Homo sapiens: one gene and its partners. The protein of the gene in region 2 purifies or fractionates together with the protein of the main gene of each other region. This does not show direct contact. Each region holds a gene or a part of one and is shown on either strand. Other genes may lie near its edges.

What was found.
Region 1: the proteins of TMEM184A (region 2) and SLC33A1 purify together in Homo sapiens (co-immunoprecipitation; 2 studies listed by BioGRID and IntAct, with this or other methods). This does not show direct contact.
Region 3: the proteins of TMEM184A (region 2) and RTF2 purify together in Homo sapiens (affinity purification with mass spectrometry; 2 studies listed by BioGRID and IntAct, with this or other methods). This does not show direct contact.
Region 4: the proteins of TMEM184A (region 2) and HIBCH purify together in Homo sapiens (affinity purification with mass spectrometry; 2 studies listed by BioGRID and IntAct, with this or other methods). This does not show direct contact.

Annotation. Positions count from the first base shown.
Region 1 is NC_000003.12:155,823,402-155,830,427, reverse strand, and holds part of SLC33A1 (acetyl-coenzyme A transporter 1), read left to right. Parts: intron 1-524; coding exon 525-740; intron 741-2,050; coding exon 2,051-2,218; 3' UTR 2,219-7,026. UniProt on the Homo sapiens protein: Acetyl-CoA transporter that mediates active acetyl-CoA import through the endoplasmic reticulum (ER) membrane into the ER lumen where specific ER-based acetyl-CoA:lysine acetyltransferases are responsible for the acetylation of ER-based protein substrates, such as BACE1.
Region 2 is NC_000007.14:1,553,185-1,560,184, forward strand, and holds the start of TMEM184A (transmembrane protein 184A), read right to left. Parts: upstream 3,022-7,000; 5' UTR 2,930-3,021; intron 2,301-2,929; coding exon 2,082-2,300; intron 1-2,081. UniProt on the Homo sapiens protein: Acts as a heparin receptor in vascular cells. May be involved in vesicle transport in exocrine cells and Sertoli cells.
Region 3 is NC_000020.11:56,464,731-56,471,652, reverse strand, and holds the start of RTF2 (replication termination factor 2), read right to left. Parts: upstream 3,027-6,922; 5' UTR 2,956-3,026; coding exon 2,887-2,955; intron 1,028-2,886; exon of another isoform or gene 712-1,027; intron 40-711; exon of another isoform or gene 1-39. UniProt on the Homo sapiens protein: Replication termination factor which is a component of the elongating replisome. Required for ATR pathway signaling upon DNA damage and has a positive activity during DNA replication.
Region 4 is NC_000002.12:190,246,807-190,253,832, forward strand, and holds part of HIBCH (3-hydroxyisobutyryl-CoA hydrolase, mitochondrial isoform 1 precursor), read right to left. Parts: intron 5,502-7,026; coding exon 5,356-5,501; intron 2,921-5,355; coding exon 2,834-2,920; intron 1-2,833. UniProt on the Homo sapiens protein: Hydrolyzes 3-hydroxyisobutyryl-CoA (HIBYL-CoA), a saline catabolite. Has high activity toward isobutyryl-CoA. Could be an isobutyryl-CoA dehydrogenase that functions in valine catabolism. Also hydrolyzes 3-hydroxypropanoyl-CoA.

The DNA of each region.
Region 1 (7,026 bases), on a different chromosome or scaffold from region 2:
TGTATTGCTGGGATCTTTTTTTTTATTTATTTATTTTTATTTATTTATTTTTTTTGAGACTGAGTCTCCCTCTGTCGCCCAGGCTGGAGTGCAGTGGTGCGATCTCAGCTCACTGCAAGCTCCGCCTCCCGGGTTCACGCCATTCTCCTGCCTCAGCCTCCCAAGTAGCTGGGACTACAGGCGCCTGCCACCACATCCGGCTATTTTTTTTTTTTTTTTGTATTTTTCAGTAGAGACAGGGTTTCACCGTGTTAGCCAGGATGGTCTCGATCTCCTGACCTTGTGATCCGCCCGCCTTGGCCTCCCAAAGTGCTGGAATTACAGGCATGAGCCACCGCGCCCGGCCTGTATTGCTGTGATCTTAAAGCCTGGCCTATAGTAGGTGCTTGATAAGTATTTGTTGAATTGAGTTCAATAAATACCATGAAAATTAATTTCAGGTTTATGACTTTGATGTTCTTAATTTAGACTGTAGCTTTATAAGCTTTATAATCATACTAAAGATGTTTTACATTTTTCCGTAGGTTACAGTGTACAGCATGTATGTTTCTATAATGGCTTTCAATGCAAAGGTTAGTGATCCACTTATTGGAGGAACATACATGACCCTTTTAAATACCGTGTCCAATCTGGGAGGAAACTGGCCTTCTACAGTAGCTCTTTGGCTTGTAGATCCCCTCACAGTAAAAGAGTGTGTAGGAGCATCAAACCAGAATTGTCGAACACCTGATGCTGTTGAGGTAAGTATGTTTTAATTTTAGATAACATTAAGCTAATACTAAGATATTAATATCTTTGTTTTGTCTCTAGAAGTACTATATCTTTTTTAAAAATCATATCTGTCCATAGGTTCTGGTTTAGAAATCTACATATATATTTTCTTTCACATCAAGGCTGAGGGTTATAATCATTCAAATCAGCAAGACTAGTTCCCTTAAAGGCGTTTCTCAGTAAAGGAGAGGCGATCTCTCTTTCCCCCACCTTGACGATCACTGTCCTACACAGCAGGCACTATATAAATGCATAATTAATAGCTTAAGTTTTGTAGTGATAGAAAAAGGGAATGTCCATTGGCTATTCCTATAACAGTGATAACTAAACCTGTATAGTGAGTGGTTTGTTGATAAATTCTTTCAAAGTGGTATTTGTCTACTTCTAGAGTAGATGGACTGGAAATTTCTTCACATTTCCGAATGTGAAAGCTGCATCGTGAAAATAGATAATCGGGCCAGGTGCAGTGGCTCACGCCTGTATTCTTAGCACTTTGGGAGGCTAAGGCGGGTGGATTGCCTGAGCTCAGGAGTTTGACACCAGCCTGGGCAACACGGTGAAACCCCATCTCTACTAAAATACAAAAAATTAGCCGGGCGGGGTGGTGTGTGCCTGTAGTCCCAACTACTCAGGAGGCTGAGACAGGAGAATTGCTAGAACTGGGAGGCGGAGGTTGCAGTGAGCTGAGATCGCGCCCCTGTACTCCAGCCTGGGCGACAGAACAAGACTCCGTCTCTTAAAAAAAAAAAAAAAAAAAAAACATATTCGGCTGGGTATGGTGGCTCACACCCGTAATTCCAGCATTTTGAGAGGCTGAAGCAGGCAGATTGCTTGAGCCCAGGAGTTCAAGACCACCCTGGGCCACATGGTGAAGCACCATCTCTACAAAAAATGTAGAAATTAATGGGGCATGGTGGTGCACGCCTGTGGTCTTATCTACTCACAAGGCTGAGGTGGGAGGATTGCTTGAGCCCAGGAGCCAGAGACCGCAGTGAGCCATTATCACACCACTGCATTTCAGCCGGGGCCACAAGTGAGACCGTGTCTCAAAAAAGAAAATGAGTATTGTTTACAGCAAGAACTGAAAATTGTTTTTAATCCTGTTAGTAGCATTAGAGAGATTAAGATACATTAACATATTTTGTCATTGGAATTCAGTGAAATACTGAAATGTTTTAAGAAAAATATATTTTTATTCTTTATAAAGTAGAAGCATGTTAATTGCTAAATACTTTCATTTTGAAATTGTGGAGTATTTATTATAGTTTTATTTTTACAGCTTTGCAAAAAACTGGGTGGCTCATGTGTTACAGCCCTGGATGGTTATTATGTGGAGTCCATTATTTGTGTTTTCATTGGATTTGGTTGGTGGTTCTTTCTTGGTCCAAAATTTAAAAAGTTACAGGATGAAGGATCATCTTCGTGGAAATGCAAAAGGAACAATTAATATATATGCTACTGGACATTCTAGCAAGGTAATTGTAGTTTAGTTTTAATTCGGAGAGCAATGATAATCAGTGCACAGGAGTATAAAATATTATTTTAAACAGCGAAATTAATAATATAAAATGCCAAATGGTTGAAAAAATAGAAACCTTTCTGTATATTTGATCATATTTTTTTTTTGCCTTGTCAATGTATTTAAAGTTTACTTAAGGTCAGGAAATTCTAAAACAACTTTTCTGGCCTTGTTATTTGATGTATATCTTTTAAATTTACTGACCAAAGCATGTTTTAAGCTGCAATGCAGTAGTCACGGGTGGTAACCATGTAGTCAGGTATTGTTATTAGTACCTATCACTGCTGAGCTGTATTTAAAATTTTGGTACAATATATAAAATGGAGAAGAGCTTGATATTCAGGTACTAACCACAACTAGTCTGACATTGTTGGCAGTTAAAATCTTATTTTGAATTGTAAATTAGTTAAATTTTATGTGGAATTTGCTGAGAAAAGAATATAGACTACTGAAATGTCATTTTAGTTATTTTTCTTATGACCACATTGTACAAATGAATCTGTGTTAAAAAGACTATTTTAAATGTATTTCCTGCTTTTGTAAGCATTAAAGATTTATAAGAAAATTATTCAAACTATTTTTTATAAAATGAAAGTTATGATTTTTAAACTTATTGATTCCTCTTGCCCCTACCCCCTCTTTTTGGAAGATATTTTGATTCCTTATAAACTTTTACCCTAAGCTTATATATGTTTTCTGTCACAAGTGCTTCCTGGCACACAGACAGCCAATGGAGGGGATCAAATTCAGTGTTGTATGTATGTTTATGGCAACATTTTGAAAATAAAAATTAAATGTTTTTCTTCAAGTAGTTTTTTTTTAATTGCTGAGAGAAAAAAACAGTAAAGCTTTCTGATTAAGTAAAATTTAAATGGGCAGTACCATAATTTAAAAAACTAATACTTTAAAGAGAGAGACAAAGATATTTTGTGCCTTTGACAAATTAAATCTAATAGTGGAAAAATGTTTCTTAATTAAGCACTTTACTAGTGAAAAAGATCTCACAATTTATGCCAAATCAGGTACTGTATTTTCATGTATTAACACATAACCTTTTGTTTGAATACTATAGTTTTCAGTGGACAGTTGCTATTCCAAGAAAATTAAGCTTTTGAGTACTTTAGCAATTCCCAGCGTATTACATACACCCAGTGATAAGGTTCTTTGCATGTTTTGTGTTATGTATTACTCTGACTCTTTAGAGATTATATAAATCCTCCAAAAGTTAGACGAAACAAGATAGTACATTATGAGTCTTAATTTTATCATTGTGGAAAAATGTGTACTAACTCCTGATTTTGTTAATTTTATAACATAGGTTGAATTTTAGAGTGGGGTTTTTATAAGTAATGGAGGATAAAATGGGTGGGAGAAAATGGCACACAGCACCTGAAGAAAGATGGGGCAGTGACCTCTAGAACTCATGCATTGCCATTGGAAAGCCTGTGTTGGGCATCGATGTCAGATCCTGAAGAATCACCTGGAAAAAATCCCATCCTAGAGGCAAGGAGGCTACACCAAACCATACACTACAGTACTTTGTCACATGGTTGTCCATTATCATGTATTAGAGTCTAAATGATTACTTGAATAAAGAAAAAAAACCACTTAACTCTTACATATGAAATGTGTTTTGATTTTTAATTTTTGGATTAAGAAACTCAGATTGCCATAATAACCTTTTATTTCTTCCCGTGTATATTATTACAAATTATATATACTTTCAAACATAGTTTTTTTTTTTTTTAATTGAGACAGAGTCTCACTTTGTCACCCAGGCTGGAGTACAGTGGTGCAATCTCGGCTCACTGCAACCTCTGCCTCCTGGGTTCAAGTGATTCTCCTGCCCCAGTCCTCTGAGTAGCTGGGACTACAGGCGCACACCACCACACCCGGCTAATTTTTGTATTTTTAGTAGAGATGGGGTTTCACCATGTTGGCCAGGCTGGTCTTGAACTCCTGACCTCAAGTGATCCACCCGCCTCGGCCTCCCAAAGTGCTGGGATTACAGGCATGAGCCACTGCGCCCAGCCTTCAAACATAGTTTTAATGTCAGTACATCTTTAATGACTTGAAGTTTTAAAACATTTTAAGCCTTTAAGGTGAAAGCCATTTAATTAATTTGCTCTAGAAATAAGCACAAAAAATTATAGTTAATTTGAATACATGTATGTAATGCATGTCAAAATAACTTGTTAATAGCTATGTGCAACTGTGTTGCATACATTGATCACTAATGGCATTTAAAAATGATCTGCCTAAATCTGAGGATCTGTTTATTATAAATCAGTAGTACTAAAATATACCACCCTGTTTTTATGTTGTGGGTGTTTTTCTTGATTGATTGATCCTGATAAATTAAACAGTACCTTCAAGTATGGACTTTTAACTCCTCCAGTTAATGCATCATATGTTTACTGGCTAATATTAGATTGAACATTTTTCTCTCTATGTCAGTATCTCCATATGCACATTGGTTGCCGCATATATACATCTGAGTTTGAAAAGTTCTTCTGAGATTACCTAAAAGTAACACCACAGATTCCTTCCATTGTAAATACTTTATTTTATTTTATTATTATTTTTTAGAGACATGGTCTCACTTTTGCCCAAGCTGGAGTACAGTGATGCAATCATAGCTCACTGCAGCCTCAAATTCCTAGGCTCAAGGGATCTTCCTTAGGCTGGATGCTGTGGCTCACACCTGTAATCACAACACTTTAGGAGGCCAAGGCAGGAGGATCACTTGAGGTCAAGAGTTCAAGACCAACCTGGTCAATATAATAAGAACCTGTCTTTATGACTTCTTTTTTTTTTTTAATTATCCAGGCATGGTGGTACACACCAGTAGTCCCAGCTACTTGGGAAGCTTAGGCGGGAGGGTTACTTGAACCCAGGAGGTCAAGGCTTCAGTAAGCAGTGATTGTGGTACTACATTCCTGTCTGGGTGACAGAGTGAGACCCTGTCTCAACAACAAAAAAGGATCTTTCCACCTCAGCCTCTCTGGTAGCTAGGACTACAGGCACACAGCACTATGCCCAGCTAATAAAAAATAATAATTTTTTATAGAGGTGGGGTCCGCTATATTTTCCAGGCTAGTCCCAATCTCATAGCTTCAAGCAGTCGTCCAGCCTTGACCTCTCAAAATGCTGGGATTACAGGTGTAAGCCACCGTGCCCTGCCCATGATAAATATTTTAATTTTGCCTGATAAGTCATAAAAAGTTTATTCAACACCTTAAATAGATTTCTCAATTTTTTAAAAATATTAAACCTTTGAAATCGAAAGTAATTTTTGGATTTCACCCCTTTATTGCAAGGTTTTTGATGTCTGTGGGAAAAACCCCTGAATTGCTTGTGAAACTCTGGATATGTAATTTTTTTTCTTTTTCTGAACAGAGTAAAATCTTGGATGGGCCATGATCCAAAAATCATGGTTTTGAAAGTAGACCGTACTATAAGCCATAATCACAAATCTGAGGTAATAGTTGTGAAAGTGTTTAAAACATCCTGAAAACAATGTTGAAAAAAAAAATCTATGATAAAAACTATAAAATCTCTGCATATGTTATACTGTATTGAACTTGAAACTTTGAAGGAATTAGAGTAGATAAGACATTAATGGTAGAAGAGAAACCACAGGGGTGAATTATATCCTACAAAAGAGAAATCTTCATGATTTAACCTTTTTTTTCTGAGTGACTTTTATTTTGCCTTATTAACAGAAACCTGAGAAAGTATGTTGCTTTGTATTAAATGGTTGAGACCATTATTTGATATAAAAGCTGAAAATTTAATTTTTGTATTTTGGAGAATTCTGTGGTTCCAAGTAATTGAAAGAATGACTAAAGCTGTATGTCATAGACCCTGCTAAAATGAAATAACTTGTTGGGAACATTCCATGCAGATTTCCAAAATGTATTTTACCTTATTATTAGAGAAAGAAAATAAACTTTTAAAATAATCTGATAACTAGCATTCATATATTTAATAAGTATTTTGGTTACAGAAGGGAAGGTGATACTGTACATTGTAACTGCTGAGACTTTTTTTTAACCAATGTCTTTGGTAGATAGCGAGGCACAATTATTTTCTCTTAGGGAGGATTTTGAATACCTATTGCAGGCTGGGCATGGTGGCTCACGCCTGTAATCCCAACCCTTTGGGAGGCCGAGGTGGGTGGATCACTTGAGGTCAGGAGTTTGAGACCAGCCTGGCCAACATGGTGAAACGCCGTCTCTACTAAAAATACAAAAATTAGCCAGGCATAGGGTGGCACACGACTGTAATCCCAGCTACTAGGGAGGCTGAGGCAGGAGAATTGCTTGAGCCCGGGAGGCGGAGCTTGCAGTGAGTTGAGATTGCGCCACTACACTTCAGCCTGGGCGACAGAGCGAGACTCCGTTTCAAAAACAAACAAACAAAAACAAAACAAAAACACCTACTGCAGACCATGTTCTTTTTACTTTATTTTATTTTATTATTTTTTTGAGATGGAGTCTGGCTCTGTTGCCCAAGCTGCTCACTGCAACCTCCGCCTCCCGGGTTCAAGCGATTCTCCTGCCTCAGCCTTCCAAGTAGCTGGGACTACAGATGTGCACTACTACGCCCAGCTTATTTTTGTATTTTTGGTCGAGATGGGGTTTTGCCATGTTGGCCAGGCTGATCTCAAACTCCTGACCTTAGGTGATCTTCCCGCCTTGGCCTCCTAAAGTGCTGGGATTACAGGCGTGAGC
Region 2 (7,000 bases):
CTCTGTTGCCCAGGCTGGGGTGCAGTGGCGCAATCTCAACTCACTGCAACCTCCGCCTCCCGGGTTCAAGTGATTCTCCTGCCTCAGCCTCCTGAGTAGCTGGGATTATAGGCGCGCACCACCATGCCCGGCTAATTTTTGTATTTTTAGTAGAGACAGAGTTTCCCCATGTTGGCCAGGCTGGTCTCAAACTCTTGACCTCGGGTGATCCACCCGCCTTGGCCTCCCACAATGCTGGGATTACAGGTGTGAGACACCACGCCTGACCGATTTTCCATGTTTTCTGTGAGGATACAACTCAACTACAGGGTCTTTGAGACAGGGTCAGCCGAGCCTGGGAGCTGGGCGCACAGGGGCTCCTGGGGAAGGCCTTCTGGAGGAGGTGCATGCGTGGCGGTGGGCGAGCAGAGGCTACGTGCACCTGGCCGCTTGGGGTGCAGCTCAGGGAGTTGGGGGAGGTTGGAGGCAGGAACAGACTCTTATCAGTCACACGCTCCCCGATGGTCCCTGGGAGGGACGGCATGACCAGCCATCAGGAGACCTCTCCCGGGGCTGGCGCTGCCTGGCTGGGTGACCTTGACAAGCCACTGTCCTCTCCGGCCTCGGTCCTCCCATGTATAAAGTGAGGGGGATCCAGCCACTCTGTGTCCTGCCTGGGACTCCTCACTCAAGGGTGACTCTGGCGGTGGGCTCAGGGGTGGGACAGGGCCTGAACTCCAGCCCAAGGGGTCTCCATGAGCCCTGTCTTGACTGCGAGGCCCCATGAAGCTAAAGCCACACTACAGCCGCGCACACACAGCCGGTTCCCAGGATTACAGCGGAAAGACGGCCTCCTCCGGGAAGCCCTCTCTGATGGCCTTACAGGAAGGGCCTGCCTCGGCACTGCCTCCGCGGCTCTGCACACTCCAGGCCACACTCATACACGTCTACCGTGGGTTCTGGTTATCTGTTCACAGCTCACTGCAACCTTGAACTGGGCTCAAGCGATCCTCCCATCTCAGCCTCCCAAGTAGCTGGGACTAACAGTGCAGGCCCCCATGCCCGGCTAATAAGCAGTTAATAAACTGTCACTGAGATGCTCCCTCGGAGACTTGTGGCCACCGGTGTCCCTGCCTGCCAGTCTCCTGATGGCCCCCTGCCCCAGCTCACCTACAGATCCATTCCCTACACCAGTGCCCCGTGCACCCGGGAAGCAGCTCTGCCCTCAGCCCAGCCCTCCACAGCCTTCCTGGGCTCCCAGCACCCCCTGAAAGCCACCTCACCGCACTGGGGTCAAGGGCTCTGGACAAATCCCTGCAGCCGTGTGGCCCTCGCGGGCCTACACACGCACTCCCACCCCACCCCTGCGCACACCGCCCTGGCCTCTCTGTGTATCTGAGTCTCTCAGGAGGGTCCTGTCCCTGACTCCCTGCCCTCTCTGCCCAGCCCCTGCCCTCGGGCACCACTTCCTCCTTGCCCCTGCCTGGCCCTTCCTTGCCACAGCGCCTGGCCGCTTCTCTACCTGGGGGCTGTTCTGTTCCCACCTGGGGACTGCTCCGGGTCGGGGGCTGTGTGTGGCTTCGGGCTTGGGGAAGTTGCTTCTCGCCCATCTCCTGCACAGGAGTCCCGGTCCCTCTAACAAGCTGTGACCTTTGCTCCCCAGCTCCCTACAGAGCAAAGTCCAACCCCCTGCCAACCTCCCACCAGCCTTCTCCAGGGTGTCACGCCTCTGGAAGGAGAAGGCCCCTTCCCCTTTCCAGCTATGTGAGCCTGGGAAAGACCTCTGGTCTCTCTGAGACTCAGTCTTCTTGTCTGTGAAATGGGACCACACTGCAGACCTCAGTGAGCCGAGTGACGAGCCTGTGAAATAGCCAGGGGTGCCCGGTGGGCGCTCTGCCCTCAGCCTGGCAGAGATCTCCCCATTTTCAGGCCCAGCTCCCACATGCCACATCCTGGGGAAGCTCATCCCCTCCCCCGTGCCCTGGCCGATCCCACTTCTGACAGCGTCTATAGCAGCGGCACCCAGGGGGACCGGGCTGAGCCACGGCCACGTCCTGTGGAGACCAAGGTCCTGAAGGAGGCTCGGGGGCGGAAGGGCTTACCTGGTGGCAGGTGAGCACCAGGGCAGTCCACACGAAGATCCCCGAGACGCCTCGGGCCAGTGCGGAGGTGAGGAAGAGCCAGGGGGCCCCCTGGGAGCTGTTCCCCATGTGGTCCATCTGCGGCCCAGCTGGCACAGCCGGTGGGGGGCTGGGCTGCGGCCAGTTCGCTGACACCAGGGGGACGCCGGCTGTCTCCAGGATCCCTGAGACATTACTCATCTGCAGAGGGAGGGAGGACACACACCGGGAGGAGTGAGGGCAAAGGTACTGGCTCCCGGCAGCAGGAAGCAGCGGGGGAGGGAGGAGACAGTGAGACGGGAGCTGAGGCTGAGCCACCCACCAGGCCGCACCCCCCACACGGACACCAGCGCCAGGCCCGGCTCCCTCCCTGCTCCGAGCTCAGCCATCGAAGCTCACCCATCAACCACCTGCGACCTGAGGGTCCCACCTCAATTCCCCCTTGTAAAACCAGCTTCCAACTCCGAGTCTCAGGCTTGCAGGGAGCCTGCTTCTTAGGGGACAAAGACCGTCTTCCAGTGGGGCAGAAGAGGGGGAACCCCTGCCGCCCTGCCTGCCCGGGAGGGCTGGGGAGCGGGCGCAGACCAGCACTGCCTGCCCCGGCAGGAGGGGGTGTGCAGCCACCCTCATGGGAGGAGCCGGCCCTCACTGGCTCTGGGACCTGTCCACCCACCTGGGAGCCCGGCTTTGCTGGGGTTCTTGGCAGCCCTGGGTGCCTGTTCCATCTCCCACTAACCTGCTGGGGCCCTGAGTCCACCCTCTCCCACACTCGCAGCCCAGTCCAGCCTCCTCCTCTCCCTCTGGTCTGCGGTCACAGGGCCCAGCTCTACCTTTGCTGGCAGGAAGCACCTGGCCCAGTCCAGGGAGGCCTGGCCTCCAGGGAAGCCTAGCTGGTCATTCTCATGGCCACGTGGCCCCAACTGGAGGCCCCACTGTGGGTGCGGCAAGGCCAGGATCTGAAGGGCTGTGCCAGGCTGGGGCGGGGCGGCCAGTGCCTCACGTCCCCAGTGGCCCACCTGGGCCCCAGGCTGCAGGCCCGTCCCCTCCTGTCCCCTCCCACGGCTGACACCCTATCCTCCCGGTTGTTTGCTGGGTGGCAGCTGGCTCCCAGGAACCTGCTGGCCGCCTGGCGCCCTCACCTGCCTATGCCAGACGGCCAGGCAGCTGCCACCTGGTGGGGACACGTGGGAGAGGTCTGCGGCAGGCCAAGGAGGGCCGGGCTGCAGGAGGAGGGGTGGAGAGCTAATGGTACAGGGTTTCTCTGGGGGGTGACAGGAGTCCTGAAATGAGGTAGAGGCGGCAGGCACACAGCACTGTGGATATACTTACCGCCACCGAATCGTTCACTTAAACCTGGGTAAATTGATGTTATGTGAATTTCATCTGAATTAAAAAAAAAATCCACGCCCCAAGAGATGAGTTGAAAACATTTGTTTTCTGGGCCGGGCGTGGTGGCTCACGCCTGTCATCCCCACACTTTGGGAGGCCAAGGTGGGTGGATCACTTGAGGTCAGGAGTTCGAGACCAGCCTGGCCAACATGGTGAAACGCCGTCTCTACGAAATACGCAAAAATTAGCTAGGTGTGGCAGCGTGCACCTGTAATTCCAGATACTCAAGAGGCTGAGACAGGAGAATCGCTTGAACTCAGAAGGCGGAGGTTGCAGTAAGCTGAGATCACACCACTGCACTCCAGCCTGGGGACAGAGGGAGACTCTGTGTCCAAAAAAAAAAAAAAAAAAAAAAGGAAATATTTCTGGTTTTTGTGGATCAAGGCAGGAGAGGGGGAGTGACAGCCCAGTCCCTGGACCCTTTGGGGTCTGGCAAGGGGTTGCGGGGCCCTGAGGGTCCCTGTCACCCCCATGCAGAGGCCCCTGTGGAGAAAAAACTCACTCACCCCGGCTCCTGGGAGAGGGATGTGGGCCCTCAGCCCACCTCTTGTCCTGTTCTGGTTACGCTTGGGCTCATGCCGCTGGGGCCACCATTACCAAGTCCCGCTCCATGCCCGCAACGGATCCACACACTCCTTGTCCTTCATATCTCCTACCCTCCCACAGCCCTGAGCAACAGGGCTCAAGGGGTTGAGGCTGGAATGACTGGAGCCACTGTTCCCCTTTTATTTTTAATTAATTTATTTTTTGAGACGGAGCCTCGCTCTGTCGCCAGGCTGGAGTACAATGGCGCGATCTCGGCTCACTGCAACCTCCGCCTCCTGGGTTCAAGTGATTCTCCTGCCTCAGCCTCCCGAGTAGCTGGGATTACAGGCGCCCACCACCACACCTAGCTAATTTTTGTATTTTTAGTAAAGACGGGGTTTCACCACGTTGGCCAGGCTGGGCTTGAACTCCTGACCTCAGGTGATCTGCCCGCCTCAGCCTCCCAAAGTGCTGGGATTACAGGTTTGAGCCACCACGTCCGGCCTGTTCCCCTTTTAGAGATGGGAACGAGAGGCGCATCAACGCGTCCAGCATCCTTGAGGGGTCCGTGAGGGGCCCGGGCTGAGGCCCATCCTTCCCTGGGACACCCTGCCTGCTTTTCCCAACTCCTCCACTGACACTGTCCCTCCAGGGAGGCTCCCAGGTGGGGAACAAGCTCAGGAAGTCGTGCCCAGCTCTCAGGCCCGCCTTGCCTAACCTCCCCATCAGCGCCCACCCGGGCCCGGGCCCAGAGCCACAGCATGCACACCCTGGCTGGGCCCTCCTGGAGCCTGCCTGCTCCCCAGGCAGGGACCTTCTGGACCAACCGACCCTGCTCCCGGGTGACTCTGTCCTGCAGCCTCAGGCGTCACCTCTGGAGAGACCATCCCCGCTGTCCCATCACCCTCCTCACTGTGTGTGTGACTCCCTGTCCACCTGTCTGTGTTTGCTGCTGGTCCTCCCTCTGCAGGAGCTGCCAGAGCCTAGAGCTGTGCCCTGTCCATGCTCGGGGCACAGGGCTTGCGGGGTGGGGGCTGTCCTGCTGAGGCGGTGACCCTGTGGGCTAAGGTCTCCCTTTGGCCAGGCAGGGGTGCTGGAAGGCGGTCCCCAACTTCCATCCAGCTGCATTCCCACTGCAGCCACAGGTACTCCTGCCGGCCTCCCACCCGGCCTGCAGAGCCCCAGGCAGTCGGCTCAGCGCGTGTGGATGTCGCCCTCTGGCTGTGTCGGGATCACCGTCACGGACAACTATGAAGTGACGATGGCTGGGGGCCCGTTTGAAGGGTGAAGACTTTGGTGCCTGGGCATGCGCAGAGCTGGAAGGGACCGGGAATCCCCTCATCCAACTCGCTCATGCTACAGGCAGGGAAACTGAGGCCCCAGCCCCTGCTTGATTTGCGTCCAGCCCCCAGCACAGGATGAAGCCTCGGGCCCCTCCCTGGGCTGACGGTGGGAATGGCTGTGCAGACAGCAGGAGGCACTGTGGCTAGATGTCAGCAGGACCGTTTTGGCTGGAGCCAGCAGAGCCAGGCTTCTGGGAGGGCTCTGGCTTCGGGCAGGCTCAGGGCTTGGGCCCCGGACACAGACTGAGGGACCTCCAAAGCTCTGTCTTCCGCCAGAGGCAGATCCTCTGTGGAAAAAGGTGGGGTTTTCTCACAGGGCCAGCTGGGCACTGGACAGGGAGGCCTGCTGATCTCCTCAGCCCACAGCTGTCCCGGCTGAGCCAGATGCGCCAGCTCGGGAACCGTGGACCAAGTGTACTGGTCTGGGGATGTCAGGAGCAGGGCCTGGTCCCCAGGGAGGGGCAGTCGGGAGGTTGACCGCTCTGCCACCTGCTCACAGGGCTCGCCGGCTGATCGAGGCCTCACCCGGTGCTGGTGTCACAGCCTCTGCGCCCGGTCACAGGAGGCGGCAGGGCCGGCTGGGCCTGATTTTTCTGGCGGGGGCGGGACACTGACCAAGCCCATTGCAGGACAGACCTGTCTGCCCAGATCCAGGCGACGGGGCCCTCTGACCATTGTTCACTGCGTCCAGGTGCCCAGAGCTGTGGGGAGGCTGAGAAGCCGCCCAGCCAGTCCCACACCCTGGCCCTGGCACAGCCACCTCCTCCTGCTCTCATGAGAAACCCGGCTGAGGGCCCATGAGCTGTTGCCTGGTTCCAGGCCGGCTGCCCTGCTAGTGCCCACCCCGACCCCCTGCCTGCCCGTCTCTCTGCAGATGCGGACAGGCATGGTGTACCCCCCTGCCTGCCTCCTTCACTGCTGGGTGGAACTCGGGGCGCCCAGGAGCCGCCTCCTCAGGGCTGGCTCATTTGATGTCCCAGGCTGAGCTGCACACTAGGGGGATGAGGTGACCGGTGGGCACCCATCTCAGACACCCGGCTTCCCAGGTCCCGCGGCCCTCCCCTGGGGGCCCTGGCCAGCAGTTCACCAAGGCAGCAGCCCCGGGTGTGAGCAGGGGGTGACAGGGATGGGGCTCCACATCCTCCCGGCTCTGCTTCTGGGATTCCCCCGGCTCCTGTCCACGGGCACGGCCTCCTGAGAGCCGCGTGGGGCGGGCAGGCAGCATGGCCTCCTGGTGACCCACATGCCCCCTCCTCACTGGGGCCGGGGAGCAGCCCCCACAGCCAGGAGGAGCAGGCCCTGGACCACATGCCACAAGCTGGGGCCTGGCTCTGGCTGTGTGAGGTGTCTGTGACCTCAGGCAGAGCCTATGCCAGCCTGGGCCTGTCTCCACCGGCAAGAGCTATGCGGCAGGTCAGGGAGGCCGGGCCAGGGCCTCAGGTTGGCCTCCCTGTCATCTGCCCTTCTAGGGACGTAGGCTGCTGCATGGGAGAGCCAGCCTGGCCAGGCCCTGGGACTCAGCTCCACTGTCTCAGCTGACCTGGCGACCTGGCAGGTCATAGGGGGGCGCTTGCCTCAGCTTCTGACTCTCGAGCAATTCTGTTCTGCCTGAGCCCATCAGCCCCAGATCCCAGGGTGGGGCCG
Region 3 (6,922 bases), on a different chromosome or scaffold from region 2:
CCTAGGGTCTTTCTTCTTTTAAGTTTTTACATATCTGTACTGGAAAGACAAGTACAAGTGGTTTTGTTTTGTTTTGTTTTTTTTTGAGACGGAGTCTTGCTCTGTCGCCCAGGCTGGAGTGCAGTGGCGCTATCTTGGCTCACTGCAAGCTCTGCCTCCTGGGTTCACGCCATTCTCCTGCCTCAGCCTCCCGAGTAGCTGGGACTACAGGCACCTGCCACCATGCCCGGCAACTTTTTTGTATTTTTAGTGGAGACAGGGTTTCACTGTGTTAGCCAGGATGGTCTCGATCTCCTGACCTCATGATCCGCCTGCTTCAGCCTCCCAAAGTGCTGGGATTACAGGCGTGAGCCACCGCGCCTGGCCAGACAAGTGTTTTTTCTATACTTTCACTCACAACACTCAATACTTCCAGAACACTTCGGACAAAATGTATGGGATTTTCCCCACACCAACCAATTCTCTGATAGCAGCCAGGTGTCTTACAATTAAACTCAATTCTGATACCACCTATTTGGATATGGCCTCAGATCCCAAAGGTTAAGGGCTCAGTCCCATAATACTGTCCCTACCCCGACTTTAGATGCCAATCACAAGTTCAAGTTGTCACCTGCACTTCTGACTGTCTATAAATCAAAGGCTACCACGATCCCCCCGCCCAGTTTGATGATTTGCTAGTGTCTCACAGATATGGGGAAAGAGTTTAGTTACCATTGCTGATTTATTACAAATACATTTTAAAGGATACAAATAAATAGCCAGATAAAGAAGTAATCTGGAAGGGTCCCAAGTGCAGGGCTGTCCTCATGGAGTTGGGGTAACTCTCCTGGCATGTGGATGTTGTCGGCAACCCAGAAAATCTCCAAACCCTCAACTTCAGGGATCTTTATGGAGACCCCACCACGTAGGCATGATGGATTATTAACTCCATGTCCAATTCCTCTTCTCCTCCCTGAAGGATGGGGGTGAGGTGGGGCTGAAAGTTCCAGGCTTCTAATCTTGGCTTGGTGTTTCTGGTGACCAGGCCCCATCCAGGAGCCCACCAATAATTGCCTTATTAGAACAAAAGATGATCCCGTCACCCAGGAAATTACAAGGAATTTAGGTGCTCTGCGTTAGGAACCAGGGCAGATTTCACAATATTGATCCGAAATGTAAGCTCCACCAGGGCTAGACTCTGCCTTGTTCACTGCTATATCCCTGGGGCCTACAACAATGTATATATGGTAACCACTTATTAAGCATTTGTTGTGTGAATAGTTATAATAAAAATCCATCCTGCCTAGGCATTCTGGCTTTTTTGAATCGCTCTTCCTTCTTTTCTACCCTCTTCCGACACCTGTTTCTTGTCAAGCCTTTCATTAAGCTACTCCTTTTCAGCCCTGGGCACAAGAAAACAAAACTGAGCTAAACACTTTTTTGGTGAAAGCCAAAAAACCACTCATGAATGCTAATTATCCAGCATTCGCCTGTTTACATGTACGTATGATCAGAGGGTACACTTCATCCTCTTGGGTATTCATTCATTCCCATATTCACACATACTTATTAGGTGTCTATTATGTGGCTGACACATGGTAGGGGTTACAGAGGTAAGACACACAAGGTTCCTGTCTACGTGGGAAAGAGACAATAAACAACACAGTGGTAGGCACTGTTAAGAAGAGAAGAGAGAATATTGGAAGTGAGGCACATTTCAGTTACAGTGGACAGATGACATTTGAGTAAAAAACTGAATGAAGTAAAGAAACTCATCATGTGACAATCTCAGTGAAGAGTATTTCAGATTGATGAACTCACACTCCAGGTTGAAGAACAAGAGGCCTGTTTAGCTAGAACAGTATGAAAGAGGTGGAGAGGGGCAGAAGATGAGGTCAGAAACATAGGCAAGGTCTGCTCAAGGGTCTGACGAGATTTTATTCTTAATGTGATGGGAAGCCACTGGAATGCTTCAAATACAATAGTGACTTAAGGGGTTTACCTTTTAAACAAGCTCTCCAGCTCCTGAATCAGAATACATGAAGTCTCCACGTGTGCTTTACAAATATTTTTGTAAAGAAGTCTCTACTAGGTGCTTTACAAATATTTTATCATTAAAAAGTAATTACTTGTGCTAACTTTGAAATCCCAAATAAGTGGATGGGAATCCTGGCTTCACTACCTACCAGCTGTGTGATCTTAGTCACCTTAATATCCCTGGACTCAATGTCCCCGTCAGTAGCAAAGAAATTATTATAATTTCCTCGATTACTTGTGAGATCAGGGATTATTCACTCATTTGTTTATTCGAAATATTTAGTGTGCCAGGAACCATGCTAGTTGCAGAGAAAAAAAGGGTACAGCCTCTGCTATCAGGAACTTACCGTCTAGCGGGGAAGACTTGATACAAATCAACCACGTACAGCCGTGTGCAGGCTAAGACAGTTTATAAAAGGATGTGGTAAGGGAACAGTTTGGGAAGGCTTCTCTGAGCAAATGAAGTTAGTGTATACAAAACTCAGTATACACTAGGTATTTGTATTATTGCTACTAGTCGCAGGTAGGGTTCAAATCCTGGCTCTGCCATTTACTAGCTTTGCAAATTTCTCCTTTTGAGCCTCAACTTCCATGTCTGAAAATGAGGACAACAGTATGTAGCTATAGGGCTATTGTGATAATTACATGAGATACCCCCTGTTAAGATTACTGTCCAGTGAATGGCAATAGTCAGCACCCATTGAATGTCCACTCTTAATACTGTTGTTAATTTTGAGTCCTCTGAATGGAATAAAAGACCGCAGCCAGGTCTGGAACTCCGCTGGCTCCCCCTTCTTACTTCCTCTCGTTTTCTGGGGTCGTCAAATTCCCACCACCCCCGGTCGCCAAGAGCCGGCCCACATCACTGACCTTCTCAACCTTCTTCGGCCCCTTCACCAGTTCATGCCTCTTGGGGATTGTTCCCCCGTCGCAACCCATCGCAGGACGGGAGTCAGAGCCAGCAGCAAACCCCCAAAGCTGTCACTTCCGGGATTTCCGGCGAAATCCGCAGCCACTTCCGGCGCACCGCCGTGACGCAGCACGCTGGTCGTGGCGTAGCGGGGCGGGGCGGGGCGGCACGCTAGGCGCGGCGTAGCGGGGCAGGGCGAGGCCGTTACCAAGTGCCGGTTGTCATGGAGAGCGTCGCTTGGAGGCTGGGCGTGGGCGGGTTTCCTCGTTCCCGTGAGACCCTGGGTTTCTGCTGCACAATCGGAATCACTCGCCCACGCTCCGGGAGGGCAGCGAGGGCGTGGGCGGCCCGTGCGCATCCACCGCTCTTTGACCCTATCCCACGCCAGCTTGTGTGGCTGCGGAGCGGGCACATCCCTGGACTGAGAGCGCCTTGAGGAAAAGGGCCGCCCTCCTGTTTCTGCGATTAAGGATGCCTATGAACGGAATCTGCTGTATCAATGGACATTTTTGTGTTTAAAAGGAGAACGCATCTTTCTTGAGCGCCAACTGTGACTCAAGCACTCACAACAAATCTTGTGAAGTGATGTTACAACAGATTCTAGGAAGTAAGACCCTCCCTTAAGGCCTGGAACTTTCTGGTGTTGCCATGCATATTGTAGATGGCATGTGTGTGAAATTTTGCATACAGTTTGTGCGTGTGTGTATTTCATTCACAGTTTCCTGAAGCCCAGGCTAAAAAAATTTTATTAACAATCAAGTATCATTAATAGACGATATAATAGTTCTTATAAAATATACACTGATGTTGCCATGCCCGTTCCAAGAGTCAGGCTGTATTTTATCTATAAGAACACAAATCCCTTGCTAAAAATTCATGATTGTCTGTCTGCTCTTAGGCGATTGTCTATCTCTCTGTTTGTTCCTTTAATTATTATAAATATTATGGGAAAGTGCCTATAATCCCAGCACTTTGGGAGGCCGAGACGGGAGGAGCACCTGAGCCCAGGAGTTCCAGGTCAGCCTGGACAACATGGTGAGACACCATCTTGAAAGAAAAAGAAAAATTAGCCAGGCGTTGTGGTAAGCTTTTGTAGTCCTAGCGGCTCCGGAGGCTGAGGGGGTAGGAAGGATTGCCTGAGCCCAGGAATTCAAGGTTGCAGTGAGCTTATGATTATGCCACTGCACTCCAGCCTAGGCAACAGAGCAAGACTCTGTCATTAATATGTATGTATGTATGTATGTATGTATTTGTACATATATATGATGGGAAAATTTCTCCATTGCCAAGAAGGCAGATCTTTATGATTGGATATTACCCTATTGACCTACGTGAAACATAAAAACGCTGAAAATATTTTTTACTTGGGAAGAGTTGCCCAGAAAATACGTGGATGTGGAAACTTCAAGGGCTATATGTAAGCTTGGGGTACTTGTTACTGTGATTAATGAGAATTTTAAAAAATAATCCCTTTAATTAGTTGGTCTCTGATTGATTTATGATTTATTTCTATGCTAACCACAATAACTGTAAGCTCTATGAGGGTAGGGACTTCATTTTGTTTTGTTTTGTTTTAGACAGAGTCTCGATCTGTTGCCCAGACTGGAGTGCAGTGATGTGATCTCGGCTCACTGCAACCTCAACCTCCCAGGATCAAAGCGATTCTCCTGCTTCAGCCTCCCCAGTCGCTGAGATTACAGGCGCCCGCCACCATGCTGGGCTAATTTTTGTATTTTTAGTAGAGACGGGGCTTCACCGTGATGGCCAGGCTGGTCTCAAACTCCTGATCTCAGGTGATCCACCTGCCTCGGCCTCCCAAAGTGCTGGGATTACAGCCGTGAGCCACCAAGCCCGGCCAGGACTTTTATTCCACATTGTATCATCAGTGCCTAGAAGAGTCTTTGGCACACTCAATATATGAGTACATTTCCTCAGTAAACCAAAAGAAAGTACAGATTCATTGAGAAAGGGGTGAAAAGCCTAGTTTTGGCAGATACTAAAACTGGTTAGTACTATTAGAATTCCATTTACTGGTGAGGAAACAGAAGCGTGGAAAGATCAAATGACTCCTTCAAGGTCACATAGGCAGTGAGAGACCCGGGAATGAGTGCTAGGATTAGTTCTTTCTCACAGCAAAGGAAAGAAAGTCAAATACAGAAGAGCAGAAACACCAGCATCTTTAGAAAGACTCAAACCAGTGTTCTTTTCTCATTTGGGGAAGAAAAAACAAAAATAGCGGCTCTTTATTAAGCCATGACCATGCGTGCACTGAGAGATTTGTAGGCATTTTTTCACTTTGGGCTCACAATAACCTTAAGAGTTAGAAGGTATAATCCCTCTTGTTTTACAAATGAAAACCCCAAGACTCAGATGTGCAAGTTGTCTTTGTTCAGAGTCTCATAGCTGCTGAGTAAAAGGAGTATAAGATGAGGGGCTGTCTCCGATGAGGCCCGTCTGACTTAACTGCTTCCCCAAATGCTGCTGATAAAACCCAGCAGTACCGGCTGTGCTGGTGTTCTAGCTCAGGCAGCTGGACTTTTTTCTCTTCCTCATTGGTTTCCTCTTTTAGAATATTGGTCTCTAGGCTACTCTGTGCCTCAGACTATACGCAGCTAGAACTTTTGTGAGGTTTATTATCATTGGTAGCAAATATGTGTTGAGAGCTGGCTGCCATGTCAGGTGCTGTGTTCAGCGCTTTATTGGACTTGAGCCGTTTTATTCTCCCGGCTCTACTGGGAAGCAGATGTCATCATTGTCTGCTTCTTCTTCCACTGCCTTGTTGAATGAACTAATAAAGGTTATTCCCTTACAAGCATCTTCGGAGACAACTTTGTCCTAGCCAAGCCATGGATTTTTGGGGAAGCAGAGGAATGAAATGATAAAAAGGAAAATCATTACCCTCTAGTAAAACCAGTATTTCTTAACCTTTTGGGAGTCATTGGACCTGTTTGAGAATTTGATGAAAACTTTGAACTAAATCTCCAGAAAAGTATTGATTAGCACATAACGACATTTCACATAGCGTATACATGTTTGTATTTTACTCACAGCCTTCTGAACCTCAGGCTAAGAACCAGTACTTTAAATGCTGTTATAGTAAGTCCTTACAGTAGGTCTCAAATATTTCAGACTTCTTTTTTTTATATAATTTTTTTATTTTTGAGATGGAGCCTCACCCTGTTGCCCAGGCTAGAGTGCAGTGGTGCAATCTGGGCTCACTGCAACCTCCATCTCCCATGTTCAAGCGATTCTCCTGCCTCAGCCTCCTGAGTAGCTGCAATTACAGGCACATGCCACCATGCCCGGCTAAGTTTTTGTATTTTTAATAGAGATGGGGTTTCACCATGTTGGTCAGGCTGGTCTCGAACTCCTCACCTCATGGTCCGCCCTCCTTGGCCTCCCAAAGTGGTGGGATTACAGGCGCACACCACCACGCCCAGGTAATTTTTTGTATTTTTAGTAGAGACGGCGTTTCACCATGTTGGCCAGGCTGGTCTCGAACTCCTGACCTTGTGATCCACCCGCCTTGGCCTCCCAAAGTGCTGGGATTTCAGGCGTGAGCCACTGCCCCCGGCCCATTTCAGACTTCTGAGCCATGGCAGGTTTGATTTCCTGGTAGCTCTGCTCATATGCTCTTCCGTAGCTGCAGCTTACCATAACTCATTTTAAGAGTTGGCATTAAACATTTTTTAAACTGTCTGCTATGGTTTGAGTGTGTCCCCCAAATTTCATGTGTTGGAAATCTAATCCCAATGCAACAGTGTTGGGAGCTGGGGCCTAATAAGAGGTGATTAGGTCATGAGGGCTCTGCTCTCATGACTGGATTCATGTTGTTATCTTGGGAGTGAGTTAGTGATCGAGACAGTGGACTTGTTATAACATTGAGTTCGGCCCTCTCTTGCTCTCTTGTCCTTCCACCTTCCACCTTGGGATGATGCAGCACAAAAGCCCTTGCCAGATGCAGGCCCCTTGACCTTGGAGTTCCCAGCCTCCAGA
Region 4 (7,026 bases), on a different chromosome or scaffold from region 2:
TTTATCAAGGTCATTCTTCAAGTACGGGACACGTATCTTAGCTGCAGGTGTGGCTGGATGGTAGCAAAGTATAAGAGGGTTCTGCAGGCCCTTGATTGCTTTGGATATACTTTTCTTAATTGGACTAACTCTGAGTTAGTGTTGAGACAGGCCTATGATTGCAGCTGATTCACACTAAGCTCCAATTAAATAAGACTTTTTTTTTTTTTTAAACCTGTGCCATTGTAGGCTGTGTTTCTCCTATTCTGTACTTATGAATTTAGCACTTTGGGTTAAAACACAAGATTCGCACTTATCTTTATTAAATTTCACATTATTACTATTGAGCAGATCACTCTAAACTCTAAGGGTTGTTTTTTCATCCATATTCTTTTTCCTAATTTAACTTGTTTTTCTTAGTTCTAAATCAACTTGATCAAAACGCTATCAGTGGTCACCAAATCACTTGAGAAAAATGCTGAATAAGTCTAAGATGACTTCCCTACAAACTAACTCCTATACATTTAGTAGAACTCTTTGATAAGCCCCTTCAACCACCGCAAAGCATAATTCATCACATATTTACTCAATTCGACAACAGGAGACTATCAAATGCTCTGATAAAAACAAGTGAAATCCTCATGTGCTCTGTATTCATATTCTCTCCACCAAGTACTTGGTGGCCCTGCCAATCTGTACTCATGTTCTTCAGTTCTGGGTAATTTATTTGGTACTATTTCTCCAAATATTTCCTTCCCTCTATCTTCTTTACTATGAATTCCTAATGATTAGATTTTGGACCTCTTGGAATAATACCTCTAGTTTTCCATTCTCTCCCTTTTCTATTTAATTATCCTTTTCTGTTAGAGTTTTCCTCAACCACAGATTTTAATCTGTTCTGGGTTTTTTATTCCCAACTTTTGTTATCATCTTTAAAATTTTACAGGCATAACCACTACCAAGGTCAGCCAGTAGCCATCAACATCTAGGCAAGGCCCTCCAGCAGCAAAACAATTATGACTCACCGAAAGCTCAGATGATCATTAGTATTTTTAGCTAAATTATTTTATAACTATAAATTAATAAGATACGTACTTGTGCTTAGAAATGATGCTCCTGCACACTTAATAGACTACAGTATAGTGTAAAAGTTTTTATGAGCACTGGAAAACCAAAACATTCATGTGACTAGCTTTATTGCCATGGTGTGGAACCAAATTCAGATTCTCTGAGGCATGCCTATATTATTCTTTGAATTACCTTTATAACATCTGTTGTTGTTTAAGAGGTAAAATATTTTCCTCTTAAGTTAACAGTTATAGATTGGTATTTGTCTAAGTTTCCTTCTTCTTGCATTAACTGTTTCCTTCCAGTGCCTTTGTTGTTTGTTTTGGCCTAGGAATATTTGTTTTTCTATGCAAAGCACTAAAATTAGGAAGCTTTGCGTCTAATGTCAGTTGCAAGTTATGGGATTCTCAATTGTGTTACATTATAAGATGATCAGGCAAGATGTGTTATTAAGGGGTCCATGAATTTCAACGTCTATGGGTTTTTTTTTCTTCCAATGTATTGCTTAGGAGTGGGGTGGGATGCAGCGGTTCTGCAAGCCAACTAGGGAAAAGGGACAGAGGTCTTCCAACTTAGTATATCTCACCTCTCATCAGTACAGTACTTCATCAGTCTCTACTGTCAGCTAGACCTGCCTGATTTGGTTTCTCTAAGGAGTAAGTATCTACTCTTCTGCCAGGCTACTGGAAGATAGCTACTCTCAGTTGTACAAGAAGACTTGTGGAAGGGCCAGGTGCAGTGCTCATGGCTATAATCTCAGTACTTTGGGAAGCTGAGGAGGGTGGATCATTTGAGGTCACAAGTTCAAAACCAGCCTGGCCAACATGGTGAAACCCTGTCTCTACTAAAACACAAAAATTAGCTGGGCATGGTAGCACACGCCTGTAATCCCAGCTACTCGGGAGGCTGAGGCACGAGAATCGCTTGAACCTGGAAGGCAGAGGTTGCCGTGAGCCAAGATTGCGCCACCGCCCTCCAGCCTAGGTGACAGAGCGAGACTCTGCTTCAAAACAAAAAAAAAAAACAAAAAAAAAACTTATAATAAATCCTCCTGTTTTTCTGCCCCATTCTACACCCTAGTCTTCAGAGGGACCTAGTCCCTTTAGAAGGGTCTACAGCAACAATCAGCTGACTTCTTATTGGCTTTCAGAGTTCTTTGGTTTAAGTTAGCAGCACTCATCCTGCTGATTTCAAGCTTCCAAAATACTAACATCTCATGTCTGCCACTGTCTCCTCTTCCGTTCTACTTGTCTTTGTGGGTTTATGCCTTTTCTTATTCACTTATTACAATTTTGAATGGTGTTTTAGGAGGCAGCATGTATTCAATCATGTTTAACTAGAAGTTATGGAGTGTTTTTAAAGATTCTTGGCTCTTATAAGAAAATTCAAGTCAGACAACATAAGTAAGGAATTAAAAATACATGCTGCAATAAACTTTATTAAATATAAATAAATGTCAAGAGTTTGCATCTCCACAAATAGTGTTAACATTGAACACCGTTTACAGAAATGCCAAAACCCTTGCAAAGAATGATCACAAGGCTATGCACTGAAGTTAACCAGCAGTGGGAAGACAGCTATGCAGCTGCACAGGAAAGAAGTCATCTTATTAGCTGGCTATACTAACAACTGTGAAGCACTGATTCTTCTGCCACGCTTTAAAGTAAATAAATCCTTAGTACATTTATTTATATTTACAAACTATAATATTCACCAACTGCCAGTTTTTTAATCACTTCCCCTCCCCATGAATTAAAACCTGAGGTTAGAATATTAACAAGATTACCTCTGTATGGTAATTTTCTAAGACAGATGCAATATTTTCTTTTGAAGGAGATTTCAAGGCTAACAAATCTTCCTCTAACATGGCCAACTAAAGGGGAGGCAGAAAAAAAGGAAAGATCTTAGATCCAATAGAAACATAGAAAGCTTTATAAAAATCTCATCTTCTTTTTTAGAATTCTTGACTTTAAATTATGAAGCTGTCTCTTCAGGTGAATCACTGAAAGAAATTTTGACTTAAGTTGAATGAACAGGTATTCCCACACAGCAAATGTAGCCTTCAAAGGAATGGATAAAGATGGAAGAAATTAAGAAGGAGAAATAGAGACTTTTGTTTCTCAGCCTATTGAGTACTTGGAACCAAAGACCTACATATAAATTTTATTTTATTTTTAATTAATTTTAACCAAAATTGCCACAAATTATTAGTGGCTACCACAGACAATGCACAACACTATAATATAGCTTCACTTATTTATCCATCTAATCCCTCACTTAATCTACCCTACACTGAGCCAAACAGGACTTTTTACTGTTCCCAGAGCATAGCTAATGCTTTCTTGCCCCTGTGATTTCATTAAATGTTTCCTTTACCTGACAATACCTTTTCCTGATAATACTCACCTTAAGGCCGGCTGTACTGCAACCTTCATAAAAAAGCTTCTAGTCCTTTCTTACAGGTAAGCTCTTCCTCCTTTCAATTCTTTGAGTATTTTCTTTGTATTGTTTTTACACTTACCATACTTTACCTCTGCCAGATGAGAGAGATGGTTATTTATCTTTTGTACCCACTTCTAATCGCATCCCCAAAGTATATTCCTCTTTTTCATATCCTCTACAGCCCTGAGAATGTCTGTCTACTCATTGCAGATACTAGCATTGAACACATTGACAAAGAAAGGGGTTATGCATCAGCTCTCTCGTATCCTAAATTCCACTGTAATCAAGGGTGTCCCTTCCAGACAGGATAATCACATGCCCATGTTTCCTTCCTGTTATAGCTCAAGGGAAGCATGAGACTACTCAATGTGACTGAGGATGCCCACAACACAGAGAAAGATCTGAATCTTTGGCCAAACATGATAGAAAGGCCTTCATAACAGTTTACAGAGACAATCTTCAATTTTGTATGCTTCATACATTTTACAGAATCTGTAACAGTGTGAGAAACAAGACCAAAGCTCATCAACATAAAAATTTCCACAGCCAATTTATAAAGTTTATGAAGAGAATTCTATTAGTGACCAAACAGTACATTTTTATGCTATCCAGCTGTTTTACTTCAATGGCCAAAGAGGACGTGTGAGAATAAATCATCATCATTTGTAAAAAGTCCTTGGGGGACTCACATGATAGTCTAACTGTCAGTATAATCTCTGGCATCCTTACCCAAAACAGAAGAATGTTACAGATATGAGGATAAAAAGGGCCATCCTTTGTAACATACAAGAGACTCTCAATGAAAAATCCGGCAACCTCTAAAAATATAAAACTGCATTAAAATTATTAATAATAGTTAAATTTTGAGTGTTTACTATTTGTCAGTTACTGGGCTAAGCATGTAACATAAATTTTCTAATTTAATTTTTATAGCTTTCCTTGCCGTATCCTAAAACACCCTTCCCTTAAGATCTGATCAGCTATTCATCTGATGACCATGTGCTTCCTTGAAAGCTGACTTTACCCCACAGATTGAAGGACAGAGTGTGCATTACCTAGGATAGGCCAGTTGGTATATTCTACCTACTCATACGGTTCAGGAATAAGATAAGCCAGTCCAGTCAGAGTGAACCAAACCAGGTGAAGCAAAATACATCCTAAGTCTCTTGCTGGGAATTCTGAGGCAAAACTACCTTGAATTGGGTCTTCTGCCACATGTAACACAAGGAGTTTCAACTACTATGTAATAGTGTCATCTCCATTCTGCAGACGGGAAAATGGGGGGCAAAAGAGGCTAAGTTCCAATTAAGACTTAAACTCAAACTATCTATATATTCTTTTCCACTATGTTATCCTGTGCTGAGAAAATTGGCCACATTGTTTTTTTTTTAAAAAAAAAAAAGCAAAGATAAGTAACGTGTTCCTTGTAACAGATGTGTTTTAGAAAAGTCAAATGCAATTACTTTCAATGCGCTAGGGAAACTCATAACCAAAAGAAGCCTTCAAAATGTCCTCATAAAATAAAAGGCTATCTTTTTATATATAAATTTAGATTTGTACATATTAGACTTTCTTAAGGTAGGCATGATTTTTTTTTTAAGAGACTCTAATTGTTCACTTAAAAATACTCACTGAAGGTGCCAACCCTGAATCCAGGTATCATTATCTCCAGTTTGCATATGAGGAAACAGAATTAGAGAGCTTATGCACTTTCTCCAAGGTAACACAGCTATAAACTAATAGGTCCAGGATTCACACCACGATTTCACCAGAAGTCTGTGGCTCTCAACCACCCATTGTACCTTCCCATGCACTATTTTGTGTTGTTATTCCAACAATACAAAATGCAAACATCTGAAAAAGTACCTTTTCAGAATCTACAAAGTGTGTAGCAATTCCTGCTCTGTACACATCTCTTCCTTTTAGTCTGAATCCTGTTAATGCAAGGAAGTAACCAAGTTTTCCTTGGAGTCGTGGCAAGAAATAACCTCCACCCACATCAGGGAACAGTCCTGTAATTAAATGTAACAAAAAGAGATAATGGTGATTCAAATGAAAAAGATAAATATAACCTTTTTGCCGTAGATCACACAAACCATTTCTCTCTGGAGCTTGAATATACATTACAAACATTATTAAACTAAGTACTATACACTGCAATCAATATCACAAAAGACTTGCTATGAACTGTGCTAACTTGGGTATTTTTCAAAACCTTCATGTCTCATTTCTATAGAAGTCAGTAAAGTATTTGATGACACAATGTTTTGTATATTAGAAGTACTCAATGTTACCTAAATTTTCTTACCACTGATCTACTTTTGAAGAATCTCCAAAATAGGTAAAAATTTCAAAAAAATTTATTTCCAAATCAGCACAGGAAAAAAAAATACATAACCTATGGCCTATTATAGCAAAATTATTACCATTTAAATCATGTCCCAACCTTAGTCAATTATCTAATATTCAAGATGTTTAAATATTGATGCAATAATCACAAGTCCTACTAAATGAACAGGTTTATACCTAATAAAATCATTTGCATTTACCCTTTTCTTAACCATCAGTATTTAAAAATTATCTACGGGTAACAACTGAAAATAGCATATAAGGCTAGGCGCGGTGGCTCACACCTGTAATCTCAGCACTTTGGGAGGCCAAGACAGGCAGATCACCTGAGGTCAGGAGTTCAAGACCAGCCTGGCCAACACAGTGAAACCCCGTCTCTACTAAAATTCCAAAAATCAGCCGGGCATGGTGGCGCATGCCTGTAATCCCAGCTACTGGTGAGGCTGAGGCAGGAGAATCGCTTGAACCCGAGAGGCAGAGGTTGCAGTGAGCTAATGCCACTGCACTGCAGCCTGGGCAACAGAGCAAGACTCCATCTCAAGTAAAAATAATAATAATAATAAAATAAAGAAAATAGCATACATACAAGTAATTACCAGCACACTCCTTTGGGTGTTTAAGATCTTAAACAACTGTGACCCTCTAGTTTTATAATTTATGTATCTGTTCTAAAGTTTCCTTTAATTATGTTGGGATAAAAATGCAAGCACTAAAATTCTCTCCAGTTCTACTTTACAAAAAAGTTCTAGACTTAAAAGAAAAAGCATCATGCTCCTGTAAACAGAAATATCTCTTAGTATCTCAAACTAGCTAGGTCTCAAGTTAAACTCATAACCTCCCCGCGCCAGTCCCACAATCTTCCTCCAGCATCACCTACCTCAATAAAGGGTGCACGTATACAGCCTTGACACCTTCTCGCACCATCCCCTTAATCCCCATCAGTGACCACATCTTATTGATTTTCCCTCTGAACTGTTCTCCACACAATAGCCAAAGTGATCTTTTAAAAACACAAATCCTTACCAGAGTCTTGCATCCACTGCTTAAAACCCTCCCATGGCTGCCTATTTCTCCTGGATTAAAACAAACACCTTTATCAAAGTCTTCAAGGCCCCTTACCACTTTTTCCACTACATCCCTTACTACTCACTCCCAATACTCCAGCCACTCTGGTCTTCTTTCAGTTCC